Regions from separate parts of the Homo sapiens genome. Here region 2 is linked to region 1. The links come from fine-mapping of genetic effects on gene expression. Tissue or cell type: whole blood. Region 1 holds a variant in brackets; the other region holds the start of a gene. All regions are shown on one strand. Distances are from middle to middle.

Region 1 (2,808 bases):
GCAGTGGCGCGATCTCAGGTCACTGCAAGCTCCGCCTCCCGGGTTCACGCCATTCTCCTGCCTCAGCCTCCCGAGTAGCTGGGACTACAGGCGCCTGCCACCACGCCCAGCTAATTTTTTGTATTTTTAGTAGAGACGGGGTTTCACCGTGTTAGCCAGGATGGTCTCGATCTCCTGACCTCGTGACCTGCCCGCCTCGGCCTCCCAAAGTGCTGGGATTACAGACGTGAGCCACCGCGCCCGGCCACCCAGCTAATTTTTATATTTTTCTGCAGATGGGGTCTTGCAGGCTGGTCTTGAACTCCTGGGCTCAAGTGATCCTCCCGCCTTGGCCTCCCAGAGTGCTGGGATTACAGGAGTGAGCCACTGTGCCTGGCTGGAAGCGACTTTTAAGTGTAGACTTTTAAGCATGATGTTGGCGTCCTGCAGAGACCAGGCAAGAGCACTCCAGATGGAAGGCACTGCAGAGGCCCAGGCTCCGGGACTGGAATAAGCTTGCCAAGTTCAAGGGCAGATCAGAAAGCAGACTCAGGGTGCCTGGCGCAGAGAGAGCAGTGGGGGAGGAGGGAGTGGTTGGAGGATGGAGGGTAGGGAGGGAGGGCCAGGGAGAGGCAGTGCCTCGGGGATGGGATGAGGTCCTGAGGCTGAGCTGCCAGTTGCAGTGGATGTTCAGGAAAGGTTTAAGATCATGCAGAACTGGAGAAGCCGACCTGGCAGGGCTCCAGGCTCCCTGAAGGAAGACCCACTGCTCTGGAACATGGGTGGAGCAAGCTCTCCCCGCCTGTTCATGGAGCTGCAGTTTCCAAGGTCAGGTGAGATCCTGTTACTTCCGCAAGCTCCAGGAGAACCGCAGACTCTCCAGACTTGGAGATCCCCTCCGTGGCCCTGGGGTATAATATATCCACTTAGCCCTCTGCAGAGCCGGCTCTCAAAGTCCATGATGGGCAATCCAGGTAAAAAGTGGAAATCCTAGCCGGGCATGGTGGCTCACACCTGTAATCCCAGCACTTTGCGAGGCCGAGGCAGGTGGATCATAAGGTCAAGCGATCAAGACCAGCCTGGCCAACATGGTGAAACCCCGTCTCTACTAAAAATACTAAAATTAGCCTGGCATGGTGGCACATGCCTGTGGTCCCAGCTACAGCTACTTGGGAGGCTGAGGCAGGAGAGTCGCTTGAACCCAGGAGGCGGAGGTTGCAGTGAGCTGAGATCATGCTACTGCACTCCAGCCTGGGCGACAGAGCAAGTCTCCGTCTCAAAAAAAAAAAAAAAAAAAAGTGGGGGTCCCCCCCACATGCAAGATGCACAGCGTGGCTTCGTCCTGCTGAGGTGGGTTGGATCGTGTTCCCCTAAAAGAGATAAGTTTAAGTCCCAGTGCCTGGTGAGACACATACCCCAGTAAACACACAACCCAGTATACTCAACCTGATGCAATGAGTGGTCCCAGATTGGGTCTTGGACCCAGGGTTTGGGGCAGGGGCATTAGCTAAATAGGGACATGGGACATTATCGGTACAATTGAGGGTAAATTTTTTTTTT[TG/G]GAGACAGAGTCTTGCTGTGTTGCTCAGGCTAGAGTGTGGCGGCACAATCTGGGCTCATTGCAACTTCTGCCTCCTGGGTTTAAGCAATTCTCCTGCTTCAGCCTCCCCAGTAGCTGGGATTACAGGTGCCCGCCACCACACCCAGTTGATTTTTGTATTTTTAGTAGAGACGGGGTTTCACCATGTTGGCCTAGGCTGGTCTTGAACTCCCGACCTCAGGTGATCCACCTGCCTTGGCCTCCCAAAGTGCTGGGATTACAGATGTGAGTCACCGCACCCAGCCCTGAGGGCTGACTTTGATATAAAAGGAGCAAAATGTTAACAATTGTATAATCCTACTAAAGGTATGCAGATATTCTTTATATCATTCTTGTAATTTTTTTCCAAGTTTGGAAGTATATCAAATAGGCCAGGCGCAGTGGCTCATGCCTGTAATCCCAGCATTTTGGGAGGCTGAGGTGGGAGGATCATTTGAACCCAGGAGTTTGAGACCAACCTGGGCAACACAGTGAGACCCTGTCTCTACAGAAAATAAAACATAGCTGGGTGTGGTGGCATATGCCTGTGGTCCCAGGTATTCAGGGGGCTGCAGTGGGAGGATCGCCTCAGCCTGGGATGTGGAGGCTGTAGTGAGCTATGATCGCACCACTGCACTCCAGCCTGGGTGACAGAGCAAGACCCCGTCTGGAAAAAAAAAAAAAATTAAAAAGTTACAAGCAGCTGGGCATGGTGGCTCACGCCTGTAATCCCAGCACTTTGGGAAGCTGAGGCGGGTGGATCACTTGAGGTCAGTAGTTCGAGACCAGCCTGACCAATATGGTGAAACCCCATCTCTGCTAAAAATACAAAAATTAGCTGGGCGTGGTGGTGGGCGCCTGTAAACTCAGCTATTTGGGAGGCTGAGGCAGGAGAATTGCTGGAACCTGGGAAGTGGAGGTTGCAGCGAGCCGAGGTCACGTCATTGCATTCCAGCCTGGGCGTTGCAGCGAGACTCTGTTTCAAATAAATAAATAAATAAAACCCCCCAGAAAACCCAAAACAAACAAAGAAAAAGTTACAAGCAAGCAAACAAAACTGGCAGCCACTCAGCTGTGAGGGGAAGAGAGTAGAGGGAGCTATGGGGCAGCTCACCCTGCATCTGACCCTCCTTGGCTAGGATGCCCTGGGTAAGCTCCTCCCCCAAGTCCTCAGTTTCCCCACGCAGCCTTCCCCAGTCCCTCAACCTGCTTCCACTGAGCCCAGAGCCTTTGCACATGCTGCCCTCTCT
Region 2 (2,808 bases), 130 kb after region 1:
CCGCCCCAAGCTGGCGCCTGCGCCCTGGGTCCAATCGCTACAGTATCTCCGAGCCAGACGCCCGAGCTCCAAGCGGCGCTGGGTCCCTCAAACTGCGCCTGCGCATACAGCCTGGCATCCGCCTCTCTGCGCTTGCGCATCAGTTCTAGCACCACCTCCCCAACCACCGCCTGCGCACTGTCAATTCCTCAGTGCACCCACCGTCCCCATTTGGTTCCTCTTAACCCAGCTCACCTGGTTTCTTGGCATAATCCCGGGCCAGGAGTCTTCCGGAAGTGGCGGGGTTTAGGAGCTCCCAGGCCCCCCAGCCGGCCCACGTCCGGGTAGCCCCGAAAAGGCGTTTGGTCGCCATGACGTATTGCGGGCAGCTTGCAAGTGCACGTTTCCGGAAGACGTCAGTGGCCCAAGGGTGTTTGGGAGTTGTAGGCCCCGTGGAAGTGTAGGCCCCGTGGAGGTGTCTGGGAAATGCGGTCTCCCAAGCTTTCATAATCTATGGTGATTTCTTCAGACTTTTGTAGACATACACAGTTACTATAGGAGGAGGCGTTCAAGGGATATTTCATTGACTTCTTGCCCTTCTTCAATTACATAACATTTACTAAAAATATCACACTTTATATGTTCCTGATTCCATCCAATGAGTAATTATTCAAAGCTTTAAAGTTAAAAAAAGAAGATTAACAATGAGTCTAATATACTCCAGTAGGGCTGGAGTCTAATCACTGTTAATTTTTATAACATTATATTTTTAAAATTATATATAACATATATAATACATATAATATATAGTATGTTTTATATATAATATATAAATTAATAATATATATTTTATATATTCTTTTCCAGCTCTACTACTGCTAAATCCTTAACCCGCTTGATCTAATTTAATCCTCACAATTGAGAGGTAGGTACTATTTTTTCCCCAGCTTATAATGAGGAAACTGAGTTCTCAGGGAGGTAAAGTTCCCAGGCCGACCCCAAATCCATGGTGCACCTATGTGTCTCCCTACTGTGAGCCAAACCGAAAGTCCGTCTTTAACAGGGTCTCCACGACGCTTCCGGTGCCTCAAGGTCCCAAGGAAACCACCTCTCACACTTCTTTAATATTTCCCAACCCCACTTCTCCCCATCTGCCATCCTTTGGAATAATGAACACAGCCCCCAGAGCCAGGCAGTGATTATTAACCCTATTTTGCAGGAGAACAAACAGGTCCTGGGGCCAGCCGGGGCAGTCTGCGGGCCGGGAAGCCTGGGATTCGAACTCCCCTCCAACATCTGCAGTTGTCCCAGCGCCCCCGCGTGGCGAGGCTGGGTGGGAGAACTACATTTCCCAGCAGGCCTCGCGAGGCCGCGCATGCTCAATGGGCCAGGGCTCTGCGCGGATAGAGGAGCGGGCGCCGGGACCGGGAATCCCCGAGCTGCGCCTTCTGGGGACGCGGCCCGGGCTACGTCGGGGCCGTCCGTGGGGAGCGGGGTCCTGGAGGCTGCGCGGGGCTGAGGCGGCCTCGATTTGGGAAGTGAGTGTCCTCGAGGTGCAGAGCGCAGTCTGAGTCGGCGCTTGAGGTCTTCGGTCTGAGGGGGGACTAGGGTCTGGGCTTGGGGCTGGGTCCTGAAGTCGGGGTCTGAGTCTGGAGTCGATCTTGGGGTAGCATTGGAGGTTTGGAGACTGGGGTCCGCCTTATGGCGTCTTGGGTCTCTGGTATTAAGTCCAGGGTCCTGGGTCTAAAGTTCTGGATGGAGGTATTGGGGGTTGAGGTCATGGGACTGGGGTCTTGGGTCTGGGGTCTTGGGGAACTGCCTCTGACCAGTCGGTAGAGTCAGGGTGTGAGGTCTGGGTCTCCAGCCTGGGTTCCGCGTCTTGAGGGAGGAGGACCTGGAAGAACCAGGGCTGGAGTGAACAGACTCCATTAGTTGAGAGAGGTCTGGGATGACACAGGGGCTCGGGAAGCCACTGCCTCACACCTCCCCATTCTGTGGCTCAGTTTCTTCATCTGTAAAATGGGAATCCTAACTTCCTTGCAAGGGTTAGTGGGTATTAAATTATGTGCCCTGTATGAACAGTACCCAGCTAGAGCCTAGCACCGGATAGGCAGCCGGGAAACCTCAAGTTTTTTGTTTTTCGGGTTTGTTTGTTTTTTTTAAGACAGGGCCTCACTCTGTCACCCAGGCTGGAGTGCAGTGGCACAATCAAGGCTCACTGCAGCCTCTGCCTCCCCTGGTTCAGGTGATCCTCCCACCTCAGCCTCCCAAGTAGCTGGGACTACAGCCTACACCACCACCCCTAGCTAGTTTTTTTTTTTTTTTTTGGAGATAGTCTCGTCTGTCGCCCACCTTGGAGTGCAATGGCGCGATCTCAGCTCACTGCAACCTCCGCCTCCCGGGTTCAGGCGATTCTCCTGCCTCAGCCTCTTGCGTAGCTGGGATTACAGGTGCCTGCCACCACACCTGGCTAATTTTTTGTATTTTTAGTAGAGACGGAATTTCACCATGTTAGTCAGGCTGGTCTCAAACTCCTGACCCCATGATCTGCCCGCCTCGGCCTCACAAAGTGCTGGGAATTACAGGCGTGAGCCACTGTGCCCGGCCTTAATTTTTTGTATTTTTTGTAGAGAGAGGGTCTTGCTCTGTTGCCCAGGCTGATCTTGAACTCCTGGGTTCAGTCAGCCCTTCTGGGCCTCCCAAAATTCTGGGATTACAGGCATGAGCCACTGCACCCGGGCGAAACCTCAGTGCTGACTCTCTCTCTTTCAGCTGCCTGAAGATGCCGGCCTAAGCCTGGAGTCCAGGCATGGACTTCCCCACAATTTC

The links. PIP is the estimated chance that this variant, and not a neighbour inherited with it, causes the effect. A credible set is the group of variants that fine-mapping cannot tell apart.
Region 2: APBA3 starts here. The variant in region 1 is the best candidate, but not a certain one, in a credible set for the expression of APBA3 in whole blood (INTERVAL, PIP 0.63).

The regions. Positions count from the first base shown.
Region 1 is chr19:3,891,641-3,894,448 of GRCh38, reverse strand. All of the region lies in intron 2 of ATCAY (ATCAY kinesin light chain interacting caytaxin), which reads right to left. Among named protein-coding and RNA genes, the nearest start is that of ATCAY, 12 kb to the right of the region's middle. The variant TG/G (reference allele first, on the strand shown) is at 1,540.
Region 2 is chr19:3,760,245-3,763,052 of GRCh38, reverse strand. APBA3 (amyloid beta precursor protein binding family A member 3) reads left to right here and starts at 1,361. Exons shown (of 11, transcript NM_004886.4): 1 at 1,361-1,517; 2 at 2,752-2,808. The coding sequence starts at 2,789. It overlaps MRPL54 (mitochondrial ribosomal protein L54), which reads right to left and starts at 371. Exons shown (of 3, transcript NM_172251.3): 1 at 235-371. The coding sequence starts at 352. It overlaps LOC105372248 (a long non-coding RNA gene), which reads left to right and starts at 413. Exons shown (of 3, transcript XR_936268.1): 1 at 413-495; 2 at 847-904; 3 at 1,199-1,299. RefSeq lists an enhancer at 8-497 and a silencer at 1,159-1,476.